Linked DNA regions of Homo sapiens. The protein of the gene in region 2 interacts with the protein of the main gene of each other region in a pairwise test. Each region holds a gene or a part of one and is shown on either strand. Other genes may lie near its edges.

The links. The genes of interacting proteins can lie anywhere in the genome.
Region 1: the proteins of TSGA10IP (region 2) and JAKMIP1 interact in binary tests that used the Homo sapiens proteins (3 or more experiments, as listed by UniProt).

Annotation. Positions count from the first base shown.
Region 1 is NC_000004.12:6,197,537-6,204,526, reverse strand, and holds the start of JAKMIP1 (janus kinase and microtubule-interacting protein 1), read left to right. Parts: upstream 1-3,977; 5' UTR 3,978-4,274; intron 4,275-6,990. UniProt on the Homo sapiens protein: Associates with microtubules and may play a role in the microtubule-dependent transport of the GABA-B receptor. May play a role in JAK1 signaling and regulate microtubule cytoskeleton rearrangements.
Region 2 is NC_000011.10:65,941,241-65,948,500, forward strand, and holds the start of TSGA10IP (testis-specific protein 10-interacting protein), read left to right. Parts: upstream 1-4,239; 5' UTR 4,240-4,435; coding exon 4,436-4,582; exon of another isoform or gene 4,583-4,626; intron 4,627-5,639; coding exon 5,640-5,776; intron 5,777-5,869; coding exon 5,870-6,588; intron 6,589-6,760; coding exon 6,761-6,908; intron 6,909-7,260.

The DNA.
Region 1 (6,990 bases), on a different chromosome or scaffold from region 2:
TCATCATGCTTCCTCCCACTTCGGAGCTGCTGCGGAGGCCAAGGGCATTTTGGGGATGTAGCTGAAGGGGGATTGAGTTGGGGATGCCTTGGTTTGGGTTTAGTGGGGTGTGTTTATGTAGGTCTGAGCCAGTCTGTGTGGGTCGAGTTGTTGCTCCCTGAACAGGCTAATGGCTCCCAGGAGTGCCCTCCTTGCCATGGCACTGGCAATGTGTGCTATGGTGCCTGGCACCAGGAGTCTATGGGCAGAGGAAGAGACATAAGGGTTGAAAATGTCATTCTTCCAATAGGAGAGGTCTGGATTTGCAGACCCTCAGAGTCACAAGGCAACTGGGGGTGTCGCATAGCCCAGGACTGCTCAGCAGGAGTCACCTGGGGCATTTAGTAAAATGCTGATTCCTAGACCCTGCTACTCTGAGGCTTCAATTCAGTGGGATGTGGAGGAGCCTGGGCATCTGCATTTCTCCTATGCCTCTCCAGGTGATGGGCGCCAGCACTGAGGTTTAGGAGGTGTTAGTCGAGTCATGTTCTGGTTTGCAATTGTTCAGTTGCTTTTCATCATGAAAATTAATAAAATCCCAGTAAGAAGCCTGGAAGAAATAGAATTCTTCCAAGTGTTAGCATTCATTTATGAAAGAATGATAGACCTTTCTCCAAATTTGAAAACAATCTCAAAAAACTACCTGAGATTACCAATAATGAGTTATGAGGCTGACAAAGTTTTCCAACCAACATTAAAATTTGTTCCCATCATTATAGGAGTACTCTGAATTATCTATTTTCTCCACAGGAAAAATATTATAAAATCATTGGCTTCCAAAGAGGTAATCAAAAATGACGAAGAAGCAAAAAATGTAAAAAAAAGAAGATATTATAAAGGTGGATATCAGGTATCCAATTAATACAATTTTATATTAGTTTTATAATGTTTTCGCAACGTTTTTGATATTTGTCAACTTAAAATATTTTAAAATTTGTTGTGATTTGTTATTATTCTAAATAAGTTTTCATTTTTGTACCAAGTCTTGTACTGGGGTTTTTAAATTCTTCTTCCTAAGGGGGACTGTAGCGGCTCCAGGTTTTACAAAACCTGGATCTACTAACCAATAGTTGCCTGTTCAAAAGTCATTCTTCTTCTTTTCCTCACTAATGGAACCCTGACTTTGTTTCAGGCAGCAATGTACCTTCAATTAAAAAAAAACATCCTTGGCCGGGCGTGGTGGCTCACACCTGTAATTCCAGCATTTTGGGAGGCCAAGGTGGGTGGATCACCTGAGGTCTGCAGTTTGAGACCAGCTTGGCCAACATGGCAAAACTCCATCTCTACTAAAAATACAAAAATTAGCTGGGTGTGGTGGTGTGGGCCTGTAATCCCAGCTACTTGAGAGGCTGAGGCAGGAGAATCACTTGAACCCGGGAGGCGGAGGTTGCAATGAGCCAAGATCACGCCATTGCACTCCAAACTGGACAACAGAGCAAGACACCATCTTAAAAAATAATAACAATACTCCCAGCCTCCTCTGAAGCCAGGGCTGGCCATGAGACACCGTCCCAGCCAATGAGATAAAACAGAGCTCTCTGGGGAGAGTTTTCAGGAAAGCGGTGAAGTGGAGCTGACCTAGTGTGGGTATGCCTTTTGTTCTTCCCCTTCTTGACTGGAATAGTGATGAGATGTCTGGGAAGAGGCAGCCAACTTGCCACGTAGAAGACATTTTGAAAAAGAAAATTACATCCTGAGGGTGAAGGAGTGAGAGAGGATAAAGTGAGGAACAGCTTGCCTTTGCATTTCTTGTTAAGAGAGAATAAAAATCTGTTTAAGCCGCTGTCTAGTTGTGATCCCGATTACTCACAGCCAGACATAACCCTTAATCTACACACATGTATCGAAGTACCACCAGCTGGGCTTTTTAAACAACAGAAATGCACTGTCTCACTTCTGTAAGCTAGAAGTCTGAAATCAGGTGTCAGCTGGTCCACGCTCCCTATGAAGCCCTGGGGAAGGATCTGTCCCAGGCCGCTCTCATGGCTTCCGGGGGTTTGCTCCCATCTTTGGCATTTCCTTGGCTAGCTGATGCCTCGACCTGATCTCTACCTTCATGTTCACACGGCATGCTCCCGTTGCTTGTGTCTCTGTATCCAATTTCCCCCTTTTATAAGGATAGAAGGCAGACTGGATTAGGAATCCAACCTACTCCATTGTGACCTCATCTTAGCTAATTACATCTACAACGACCCTATTTCCAAGTAAGGTCATATTCTGAGGTCCTGGGAGTGAGCACTTCAACATACGAGTTTTTTTTTTTGAGGGGGTGGGTGGGGGGAACACAATTCATCCCAGGATACCTGGGCATTGTCCCTGATTGTCCCTCCCTCCCTCCTGTCCACGTCCAAGCCGTGAGCATGTCCTGCCAATTCTGCACCCAGATTGCTCTGATGCGCTGATACTTCACTGTATCAGCGTGGAGGAGGCCCCCACACTGCCTCCTTGTCCCCACTCTTGACTACTTCAGCCCATGCCCCAAGGGCAGCCAGGGCATCTGCTAAAGATAGTCTCACATCTGCTCACAGATATCCTAGTTCCTCCTGACCCCCTGAACCTTAGAGGTCTGCACTTCCTCCTCTTCTGAAGTTAGGCATGGCCATGTGACCTGCTCTGGCCAATGAAACGTGAGCAGAAGTGACGAGAGTCCCTTCGGGGAGGAAGCCTTCAAAGCCAGCATAATTGTCACCTTTCATTCACATTGCTGCACCATGTGGGTGCTCGGCTGGCAGACAGCCCCAGCAGCTTGGGCTCCCAACCACTCTGATGAACAGAGCCCCATTGACCGAGGCAGGATGTATGATGTGGGCAAGACACACCAGGGAGATTTGGGTTTGGTTGTTACTGTGGCTAACATAGCTTATCCTGACTGATGCACTTTAAAAAATATCAATCTGACAATGGTCCATGGGACCACCTTCCAGGTGAGACAGTCTCCAAACTCTCGCCAGCCTGCAAGACCTTGCAAGTGCTGCCCCTCTGTGCCCCCGCCCCCCATCTTCCACACACTCCCTCTCACCATTCTGTGGCCCAGATACTTTTATCAGATTCTCAAATATGTCCCGTTCACAGCAGTCAGGGTGTTCCCCCATGCTGCTCCCTTTGGTGGGTGCTCTTCCCTGCCTTCTCCTTGCTAGAAAGTAAGCTCTGGTGGGCAGCCGCTTCCTCTCTGCTGTTCACTGTGGTGTCCCCACATCTTAGTGACTACCTGGCACACAGCAAGTGCTCAATAAATATTTGTCTAATGACACTGAATGAATGTTTGCCCAGCTGAGTCCTGCCCCTCCCAAGTCTCAGCTCGACAGCACATCTTTCATTTGGCTATGACCTGCTGATGTGGCTTTGCTGGGGGCAGCCTGGGCTGGTGGGGGGAGGCTCCCTAGGCTGGCATCCGCCCAGCTCTGCCGCTTGCTGGCTCTGCCGCCGTTAGCGTGCGCTTTAACCTCTGACCTTCAGACCTCTCATGCGTACAGAGGGGGACATGGATCTCCGGGGTCGCTGCGTCTTCCTGACCACTGACGGCCAGGACGGCCCCAGCCCCGCTTTACCTGCAAGCCCCACTCCAGGCTCGAGCCCCCGAGGGCAGGGATAGCTTCCCGGGTCCCGAGGCTTGACCAGAGCCTGAAAGCTCCTGCCGGGGGTTGCTCCGACTCAGCGAGGCGCCAGGCTGCCCGGCGCGGCTGGGGGCGCTCAGCGCCGGGACCCCAGCCCTGCCCCGGCCGCCCGCTGGCCCAGTGCGCACGCTCCGGCAGCTCAGCTCCCCCTCCCACGGCGGCAGGAGAGCTCCCGGCATCTGCCCGGGGCGGGGGCGGGGGCGGGGCGGGGCGGGCGCCGCGCCCTCCTGCCTGACTGGCAGGAAGACAGACCAATCGGAGGGGCTCCCCGGGGGGAGGGGCGGTGCCGTGCCTGAGCCGGGCGCGGGCGACCGAGGGAGCTGCAGCCACCCGCGTGCGGCACGCGCCGGCCGCCTGCCCGGATCGCGGCCACCAGTGCCGCGGCCTCTCGACTCCCGCCCCGCCGAGCCGCGCGCGCGACTGCCATCCTCCTCAATTGCTTTTTACGATTTTTTTTGTGCATGCATTCATTTTCTGTTCCGTTTTGTCCTTTTTAAGGCGGTGGCGGCGGCGACAGCGGCGTAAGCTCGCAGCGGGGAGGGGGCGGCCGGAGGATGCGGCGCGGGGCTGCGCTCGCTACGTCCGCTGCTGCTGCCCGGCTCGGGCCTGAGCGCCGAGCAGGTGGGTACAGGTGCGCCGGGGGGCGGGAGGCGAGCGCTGGCCAGAGGGAACCCGTGGACCCGGCGACCGAGGGGCGGACCTGGCGGCAAGGGACGCGGCGACCGGTGCCGCCCCGCCCCATCGTCCATCTCCCCCTCCTCCGGCCATCGCGCCCCCTCTGGGTCCCCCTTCCACTCTCGCATCCCACCTCAGTGGTCCCCCACCCTTCCATACCCATCCCCCACTCCTCTTCAGACCCCCTTGCAAAATCTCCCAGCCGCTGCGTCGCTTCCCCCAACACCCCCTCCCGGTCCCGCCCCCAGCCCCCAGCTCTCCTTCACGCCACCCCTATTTCCACTCTTCTCCGGATTCCGCCCTCAAGCCAAGGAGCGGGAGGGGGACCCACCCGGTGCCTGCCGGAGTGGCGCGGGGGGTGTGGCCGGCCCGTCCCCTCCGTGTCTTCCGCAGGGTAGGTCACAGTCCCCCAGATCTCCGCCCAGGTGGCAAAGAAGATGGAGCTGGGGGCCGCGCCCCGGCGGCGCGGGGCCCGAAGGCGAGGCCGCCCAGCCCGCACCCCACCCCACGCACGGCACACGCCGCCGCGGCCCCTGCCACGCACACCCTCGCGCTGCTCCGCCCACGTGGGCGCCGGGGAGGAGGCTCGAGAGATGGGAAGAAAGGCTGGCACCCACCCTCCTGCCGGGCCGGCGCGCCCTGGGCGCACTGGCCTCCGGAGATGGCGCGCAAGGATTGACTCTCGTGGTGCCAGACACCTTGCCGGGCGCCCTGCGTCGGGGCCAGCGGCCTCGCTGGCCTGCGTCAGTGCGCTGCGGCCTCGCCTCCCAGCCCCTCGGTCCTTCGCTCCATCCCCCCTGCTGTGGGCTCCTGAGCATCCGGCCTGGGCAGCCCAGATAGAGGCCGCTTACGAGGCTGGCGCTTCTTTTCGCCTTAGAAGCATCCCGCTCCCACACACCCCAGCTCGCCGGTCTCCTGAAGGCTGGGCCAGCCTCGGCTCTCCGCCAGCCTCTGCCCGGCTCTCTGAGCTCCAGCGATACTGTATCTAACCGCCAGCCCTCCTCCGCCGCCCGCCCCATCTGCGCACACTCGCAGGCACACTGTCCTTGGCCTTTGCCAGTGCTGTGCTCTCTCCGCGAACGCCCTAACTTCAGCTGGCCAGCTCCTTGTAGTCAGGGAGATCCCCTTGCCCCTCCTGAGCTTTCCTGGAACGTGGCGCTGTCCCAGGATGCTGTTACCATCTGATGGCCTCTGCCTTCCAGAGCAGAGGAGGAGGTGGGGAGGAGGGCAGGGGCAGCCTCAGCCCCTCTCCCAGGGCTCCACCCACAGTGAATGTTGGGCATAGCAGGGCCATCCCCCCTAAGTCAGAGTAACCCGCTGGTGTGGAGGGCGAGGCCATGGGAGGAGCTGGCCCTTCCTGTAGCACCCTGGGCTGGTGGGTGGTGGCTCCACTAGCTGGGATGGGCAAGGAGGAGGGACACATTCGGGGATAGAGTGGGGGAATTAGAATCCTTTCCTAGCAGGGCATTTCCACCCTCCTGGAGACCTGCAGCTCTGCAGAGACTGATGTTGTAGCGCACAGTGGAGGCTTGTGGCTTGTTGCAAGATTTTTGTTGCTGTTGAGGTGTGTACCGGTCTGTAATGCTGAACATCTCTGCTCTGGAGTCTGGGGTAATTCTTATCTGTAGTCTTTTTGCAGTAAGCAGCTCCCAAAGGCTCACAGTGTGGACCCAATGCATGAGATGACTGGCATTTTCCTCCTTCACAAACCACCCATGACTCCCACCGCCCCCACGACCTCACCAGTTCCTCACATCCTGGCTTCCCCAGCCCATCTCTCCCCTCTCCCTGCCACAATGTCTCAGCCACGCCTGCTGCCTCTGTGTTGCGTAGACATGTCTTCACACTTGGGTTTTTCCCCCACATGCTTCTTTTTCCCCCCGTCTAAAACAATGCTCCCCTCCCTTGAGTATGTGGAGAACGATTCATGATTAAGCCCAGCTCTCAGGTTCCATCAGTGTGATTTTCCCAGACTCTGCCGGAAAGATTGTGTGCTTCTCTCATTTGTGTTCTCAGAACTTTTTATACACATACAGTGTGATATTTGTTTGTGTAGTTTTTCCTTAAGCAGATCTTGCCCACTAGAGACTGGGGACACGGGACACAGTGAGGTGGCCTGAGAGATGGTCCCACTTTGGTGGGGGCTCTGTTTTCCTGGGGAGGTGACCACACAGACACTGCCCGTGCTGTCAGAGAGTCATGTGCAGGGAGAGATGGGGACAGGCGGCCCGGCCAGGAAGGCTGCACGAGGAAGTGGCAGGACCGTGGCCCCACTCTCTTGGTGTGTAAGGGTGGATTGGGCTGTGGGACAAGTGGCAGAGGGAACAATTTCTAATGCTTAAGCCAGCAGCAATTGCCACTGCAGGCTATGGCTATCTGTTTAACTCCTCGAGGGTGGGACCTTGTGTCTCTTCAGGCTCTGAGCCAGACTGCCAGGGTTCCCATTCAGGCCCTGCCTCACTTAGCTGTGACTGGGCAAGTGCCTCCCTGCTGGGCTTTCTAACTAAATGGGGGCTTCCCTTGGGGAGTCTGAGGATGACTGCAGTGTGTCCCAGTTCTGCTGGGTCACTCCTCTCCCCATAGTGGCGACGGGATCAACCTGCAGGGCTTCTGAAGTTGGACTTGCCTGTAGTTTATCCCTTGTCATTGTGTGATCTTGGGT
Region 2 (7,260 bases):
GGCAGCTGTCCCTCTCCTGCAAGAGGAGGAGGAACTGGCAGAGGAGCTGGGGAAGAGCTGGCCACTGACCTCATGTTAGTGGGAGGGAAGGCATCGGTGATTTTGGCAGGTGCAGGCTCACAGGGTGGTGGGGGTGACAGCCTGCCTGGAGTGGGTTCAAGAAAGAAAGGCAAGGGGGAAATTGACCTTGCCCAGTGAAAACTCTTTCAGAAGGCTTTGCTGCAAAGGGAACACAGAAATGGGGCAGTGTTGAAGAAGGGGAAGTGAGTCAAGAAAGAAGGAACAGTAGTGCTGATGGAAATGATGCCAGAGAGATGAGACATTGCTGATGCAGGAGAGAGTGGGAGGACGGCCGGAGCCACATCGCTGAGCAGGCAATCAGCAAATGAATGAATGTGTGTGAAGCGGTGATAAGAGAAGCAGAGCAAATGGTGGTGCCTATTAGGGACTTAGGGGATCTGGGCAGGGAGGGCTTCTTTGGCAGGTGTCATTTTAGCAGAAACCTAGAGGTCCTGAAGGAGTAAGCCATGTGGATTCTGGGGAGAGAGCATTTCAGGAAGAAGAAACAGTCGGTGCAAAGGGCCTTAGGGCAGACTGGCTGGCGTACCGAAGGGAGAGTGTGGTTGGATCGGAGTGAGAAGGGATCATGGTGGCACTTGTGAGCAAACACCTGTGAAACATGCAGGACCTAGTGGGCCAGTAAGGACTTTGCCTTTTACTCAGCGAGACCCAGGACCCATCACAGGCGTGATGGACTCTGTTTTTTTTTTTTTGTTTTTTTTTTTTAGTTAAGGTCTTGCTCTGTTACCCAGGCTGGAGTGCAGTGGTGCAATCAGGGCTCATTCTGCCTCCTGGGCTCAAGTGGTCCTCCTACCTTAACTTCTCTAGTAGCTGAGATCACAGGCATACTCCACCACACCTGGCTAATTTTAGTATTATTTTTTGTAGAGAAGGGGTTTGCCATGTTGCTCAGGCTGGCCTCGAACTCCTGGCCTCAAGCCATCCGCCTGCCTCAGCCTCCTAAAGTGCTGGGATTACAGGTGTGAGCCACTGCGTCCAGCTGGGCTCTATTCTTCACAGAATCACACTGGTTGCTGAGTAGAGAATGGTATCAGGACAAAAGCAAAAACCGGGAGGTTGGGTGTGGTGGCTCACGCCCATAATCCCAGCACTTTGGGAGGCTGAGGCAGGTGGATGGCTTGAGGCCAGGAGTTCGAGGCCAGCCTGGGAAATATAGTGAGCTCCCATGTCAATAAAAAATAAATAAATAAGCAAAAGCCGGAGATTAAGCGTTACTGAAATGATCCAGAAGAGAGAGGGTGTTGGTTTGGAGAAGTGCTGGATTCTGCATGTATTTCAAAGGTGGAGCTGGTAGGGTTTGCTAAGGCATTAGGGGCAGAATGTGAGTCAAACGAAAGAGTCAAGGATCATGCCAGGGCGTTGACCTGAGCAACAGGAATCTCAGACATGCCCCTGACTGGGATGAGGCAGGCCAGTAGTCTGACCTTCAGCATGTCAAGTTGAAATGCTTATTTATCCAAGTGGGGATGTCAGATGGGCCACTGGATATTTAAGTATGGGAGAGGTCAGGCTGAGATACGTAAACCTGGGGACGGGTGGAAAACAGCAGGTGCTGGCCTGGCGCAGTGGCTCATGCCTGTAATCCCAATGCTTTGGGAGGCCGAGGCAGGCCAGGAGTTCAAGACCAGCCTGGACAACATGGCAAAACCCCATCTCTACCAAAAAATATAAAAATTAGCCGGGCATAGTGGCGCGTACCTGTAGTCCCAGCTACTCGGGTGGCTGAGGTGGGAGGATCACTTGAGCCTGGGAGGTTGAGGCTGCAGTGAGCTGTAATGGCACTACTGCACTCCAGCCGGGGTGACAGAGTGAGACTCTGTCTCAGAAAGCAAGCAGCAGGTGGCTTTTAAGGCCATCAGACTGGATGAGCTCACTTAGGGAGGGAGTGTGGTAAAGGAAAGAGGTCTGTATGCACCTCATGAGAATATCAACCTGAGAAACCCAGACCTGCCCTCTGCCAAGGAAGAAAGTGGCCCAGAGTTCTGGACTGTCCAGGAAATCACCTGGGGTTGAGGTCTGGAAGGGGCTCCGTTTCTGAAAGTGAAGCTGCCTACATGTGCCTTCCACTGGGCCCCAGGTGTGGGAGAAGGATGGCAGCCCCCTAGAAAGAAAAGAGTTTGCATATTTTGGGTGGCAAAAGAGCTTCACCCGGAGCAGCACTATTTAGGATATTTACATTGGATGTGCTCATTGTGAGGTGCCACTGGGATGGAGTCTGAGAGCAGAAGAGGAGCCACAGGGCCACAGTCTGAGAAAAATCCTGCCTCTATGGCATCTTCCAGGATAGTCTGCTTCCCTGGGGCCACATCATTGATTAATTAATAACAGCAACACGGCCCGGTGCAGTGGCTCACACCTGTAATCCCAGCACTTTGGGAGGCCAAGGTGGGTGGATCACTTGAGGTCAGGAGTTCAAGACCAGCCTGGCCAACATGGTGAAACCCTCTCTCTACTAAAAATACAAAAAATTAGCCGGGCATGGTGGCACATGCCTGTAATCCTAGTTACCCGGGAGGCTGAGGTGGGAGAATCGCTTGAACCCAGGAGGCAGAGGTTGCAGTGAGCCGAGATCACATCACTGCACTCCAGCCTGGGCAACAGAGCAAGACTCCATCACAAAAAGAAAAAAAAAAGATAATAAGAATAACAGCAATGCTAACATAGCAGTTCCCATGAGCCATGAGGATGTTCTGTTTGTATCTGCATAGTGATTTAATCCTTACCACTACCCTGGGAGTAGATCCGATTATAACCATCCCCTCCCCATTGCCTATGAGAAAACAGGCACCGAGAGGGTACGGGACAAGTGGAGGAGCTGGGATTTGCACCCAAGCGCTTCCTCTATGCTCTTAGCCATGATGCTCTGCTGCCTCAAAAGAACGGCCAGCTAGTGTTAGTAATAATAACATTTACCGATGTCATCGTTTGGGGTTTCATGTAGTCCTTGCAACAAACCTATGAGCTGGGCCCGTGATTCCAGTTTTGCAGAGTGGGGAGTTGGTCACAGAGCTAGTGAGACCAGGCCTCCAGCCCAGTTGGTCCGTCTCCAGGGCCTCAGCTCAGCACCACATCCCTGTACTGCAAGCCTCAGTGGTCAGCACCAGGCGTCCCATGGGGACTTAAGATTCCAAGGCTTTTGAGCACTGCTAGAAGTTTGGGGTAAGATCTTTTACTTTTTTTATATTAAAAAAATATATTTTTTTGAGATGGAGTCTCACTCTTTCGCCCAGGCTGGAGTACACTGGTGTGGCCTCGGCTCACTGCAACCTCCACCTCCCGGGTTCAAGAGAACCCGGAGAGGGAGAGCCTCAGCCTCCCGAGTAGCTGGGATTACAGGTGCCCACCACCATGCCCGGCTAATTTTTGTATTTTTAGTAGAGATAGAGTTTCAATCCAGGTGGGAGATGGGGTTTCACCATGTTGGCCAGGCTGGTCTCCAACTCCTGACCTCAGGCAATCCGCCCACCTCGGCCTCCCAAAGTGCTGGAATTACAGCCACTGCCCGGCCTGGGGTAAGCTTTCAATGTTGTAACTCCCTCCAGAACCTCATGGCCTATGAAGATGGCCAGGTGGGCCTGGGCCCAGGCTCTGAATGGCCTGCTGCCTCTCTCCTGGACACAGCATTCAACTTCCTGGCTGGGGCTGGGAGTGCAAAGATTTGTTTATTTGTTTCTTTTTTATTGAGACAGAGTCTCACTCTGTCGCCCTGGCTGGAGTGCAGTGGTGCAATCTGGGGTCGATGCAGCCTCTGCCTCCCGGGTTCAAGTGATTCTCGTGCCTCAGCCTGAGTAGCTGGGATTACAGGCATGCGCCACCAGGCCTGGCTAATCTTTTTTGCATTTTTGGTAGAGATGGGGTTTTGCCATTTTGGCCAGGCTGGTCTTGAACTCTTGACCTCCAGTGATCCACCTGCCTCAGCCCCCCAAAGTGCTGGGATTACAGGTGTGAGCCACCACTCCCAGCCTGGGAGTGCAAGGATTTAAATAAAATCTTGTGAAAGTTCAGTTTGGCTCCTTCAGGGACTCGGCCAGGCCGGGGGGCAGCACAGGAGACAGGCTGACTCCCCTGTACAGATGGATGGGGAAACACAGGCAGAGTAGGGACAGGGGACTTACACCAGGTCACACGGGGAGCCTGTGGATGAGGCAGAGGCAGGACTTGGGCCTGGGTCTCTGCGCTAAATGACTCCTGGGCATCCTGCTGAACTCTCTCCCAGAAGGAGATTGGCCTCACATACCCCACTGACCCCTTCCTAGCATGCTTTTTGCCAGACCCATTGAGACTGGCTGAGGACTGGTTGCCATAGAGATGGCCTGTTAGGCAGTTCTACGGTGCGGATGGGGGATGGGGCAGGATGGGGCAGGACACCGATATGCTAAATACCTACCAACAGTTGGTTAGGACCCCGTCGGTGCGACCAGGGCAGGACGTGCGGCTCCAGGCTCCAGGAACCAGAACGGGGCTGCTCAAGCTGCTGTCGACCGTCTCTCAGGACAAGCAGGTGAGGGAGGCCCAGTGAGGACACTTCCAGCTGCCTAGAGCCAGGTGGGTCAGGGAGGCCTGGGCTGGGGAGGCCCTTGAGAAGCCACAAGACCTGAGCTGAGGTCCAGATGAAACTCAGGGAGGCAGGAGTGGGACAGGGACCACAGGGAGGCCTAAGGGCCTTGGGAGAAGCCGAGGGATGACGCCCAGGAGTGACTCCCAGGGATGATGGGGCCATTCAGGGAACACTGCGGAAGGAGCAGGTTTCAGGAAAGATGAAGACCACCTTGATGAAGACCACCTTGGTTTCTGCCTTGGCTGTAGCAGGTCCAGGGCCCAGTGGGACATTTGGGAGTGCAGTCCAGGGCCCAGAGGTGGCCTAGCGCAATGGTGACAAATCTGGGCTCCACCACTTCCCAGCTGTGTGACCTCAGTTACTCAGCCTCTCTGAGCCTCAGCTTTCTCCTCCACATGATGGAGGTGATAGTGAGTACCGGCCTCCTAGGGTCCTTGGGAAGGTTACGTGTGTTTATGCATGAAAGTCCTGAGCACACAATAGGTGCTCAGCAGGTGGCAGCTGTTGCTATTTTAATATGCAGAACGGAGGTGGTGCTCGGTCGGGTTTTTTTGTTTGTTTGTTTTTTTGAGATGGAGTTTCACTCTTGTTGCCCAGGCTGGAGTGCAATGACACAATCTCGGCTCACTGCAGCCTCCAACTCCTAGGTTCAAGCGATTGTCCTGCCTCAGCCTCCCAAGTAGCTAGGATTACAGGCGCAGGCCACCACACTCGGCTAATTTTTTTTGTATTTTTAGTACAGATGGGGTTTCGCCATGTTGGCCAGGCTGGTCTCGAACTCCTGGCCTCAGGTGATCCGCCCCCCTTGGCCTCCCAAAGTGCTGGGGTTACAGGTGTGAGCACCACATCCAGCCCTGTTTGGTTGGTTTTTATGGTAACGAGGGCCCAGAGGGACCCAGCCAGGCCCAGCCAGGTGCACAGAGGGAGCACCCGGGTGAGGTGCAACACAGTCCAGGAGGCTGCTCAAGCTGGCTGCTCCTCCCCTACTGTCTCTGCCCAGGGCTGCCTGGGGAGTGGTGATGGTGTGCCAAATCAAGACCTGCAGCAGAGGTCTCAGAGCTCAAGGCAGACAGCAAAGAAGGACCGCAAGCCCAGGGGCCAGAGCAAGAAAGGACAGGGCTCTGAAGAGTCTGAAGAGTAAGCAGCAGTGGGATGGGTCAGGAGGCTGTTGGGGGTCAGGGCCCTCTGGGGGCTGGCGCCGACCCTGACCCCCACCCTTTCCTTCTTCAGTCACTTCCCGCTTCTTCCTCGGAAACCCTCCTTCCCCTTCCAGTGGGCCTGGGAGAGCATCGCCACAGATGTCCGGGCTGTGCTTCAGCCAAGCTCCCCAACCCCTGGCCACCAAGCCCTGCCCATGCCCTCCTCGTTCTCCCAGCGTCAGTCCAGGCGCAAGTCCACGGCCAACCTCCCAGAGGCCCATGGCTGCTGCTGGAAGACAGAGGCGCAAAACCTGAAGGCGAGACAGCAGCTGGGAGCCTGGGGCGGTGTCTCCATCCCTACTGGCAAAGGGGAGCTAGGATCAGAGCCCCCCAGTGGTCTCCAGCTGCCTGGGAGGAGGCCAGGATCAGGATCGGCGTCCGACAAGCAGGTCCAGCTGCAAAGCCTGGGTGCTGAGGAGGCCGAGAGGGGTCTGAGTTCTGGGGTGCTGCCCCAGCGCCCCAGGAGGGGGTCGATCTCAGAGGAGGAGCAATTTTCAGAGGCCACAGAGGAGGCTGAGGAGGGAGAGCACAGGACTCCCTGCAGAAGGAGGGCTGGTTGTCAGAGAAAGGGGCAGATTTCTGGAGAGGAAGCCTCCGATGAGGGAGAAGTGCAGGGCCAGAGCCAGGGGAGCAGCCCCAGCTTCAACAACCTCCGAAGGCGACAATGGAGGAAGACAAGGGCCAAGGAGCTGCAGGGGCCATGGGACCTGGAGAAGCTGCACAGGCAGCTACAGAGAGACCTGGACTGTGGTGAGCGTGGGGCTCAGAGCCTGGATTCCCCCGAAGCTACACCGCAGGGAACAGGGAGCAGTCAGGGAGGCAGGGGCTCAGGCAGGCTGGGCTGTGCTCTGGGTGCTGGGGGGCGTTGCCTGGTGGGCTGAGAGGGAGAGGGCAGCCCCTGACTTGGTCCCACTGTGGGCAGGCCCCCAAAAGCTGCCCTGGAAGACTTTGAGGGCTGCCTTCCAGGCCTCCAAGCGGAATGGAAAGGCCTATGCCTCGGGATACGATGAAACTTTCGTGTCTGCCAACCTCCCTAATCGCACCTTCCACAAACGACAGGAAGCCACCAGGTAAGAGGGAAGAGAAGGGAGTGGGAGCCCAGAATGAGAAGTAGAGATGGAGCCACTTCTCCAAGAGATGCTTAGGCATTTGAACTCTCATTCATTTCTTTATTTATCCATTCACCAAACTTTTGGATCATCCATCCATCCATCCATCCATCCATCCATCCATCCATCCACCCATCCATCCATCTATCCAACTACTGATAACATCCACTCAACCATTCATCCATCTCTCTCAATACCTGGCCAATTATCTATTGATACAACCACTTTTATTTCCCATCTTTTGTTCCATCCATCCATTAAATTATTAACTAAGTGATTAATGCAACGTTTATTATCTACTCATGGGCCCTTA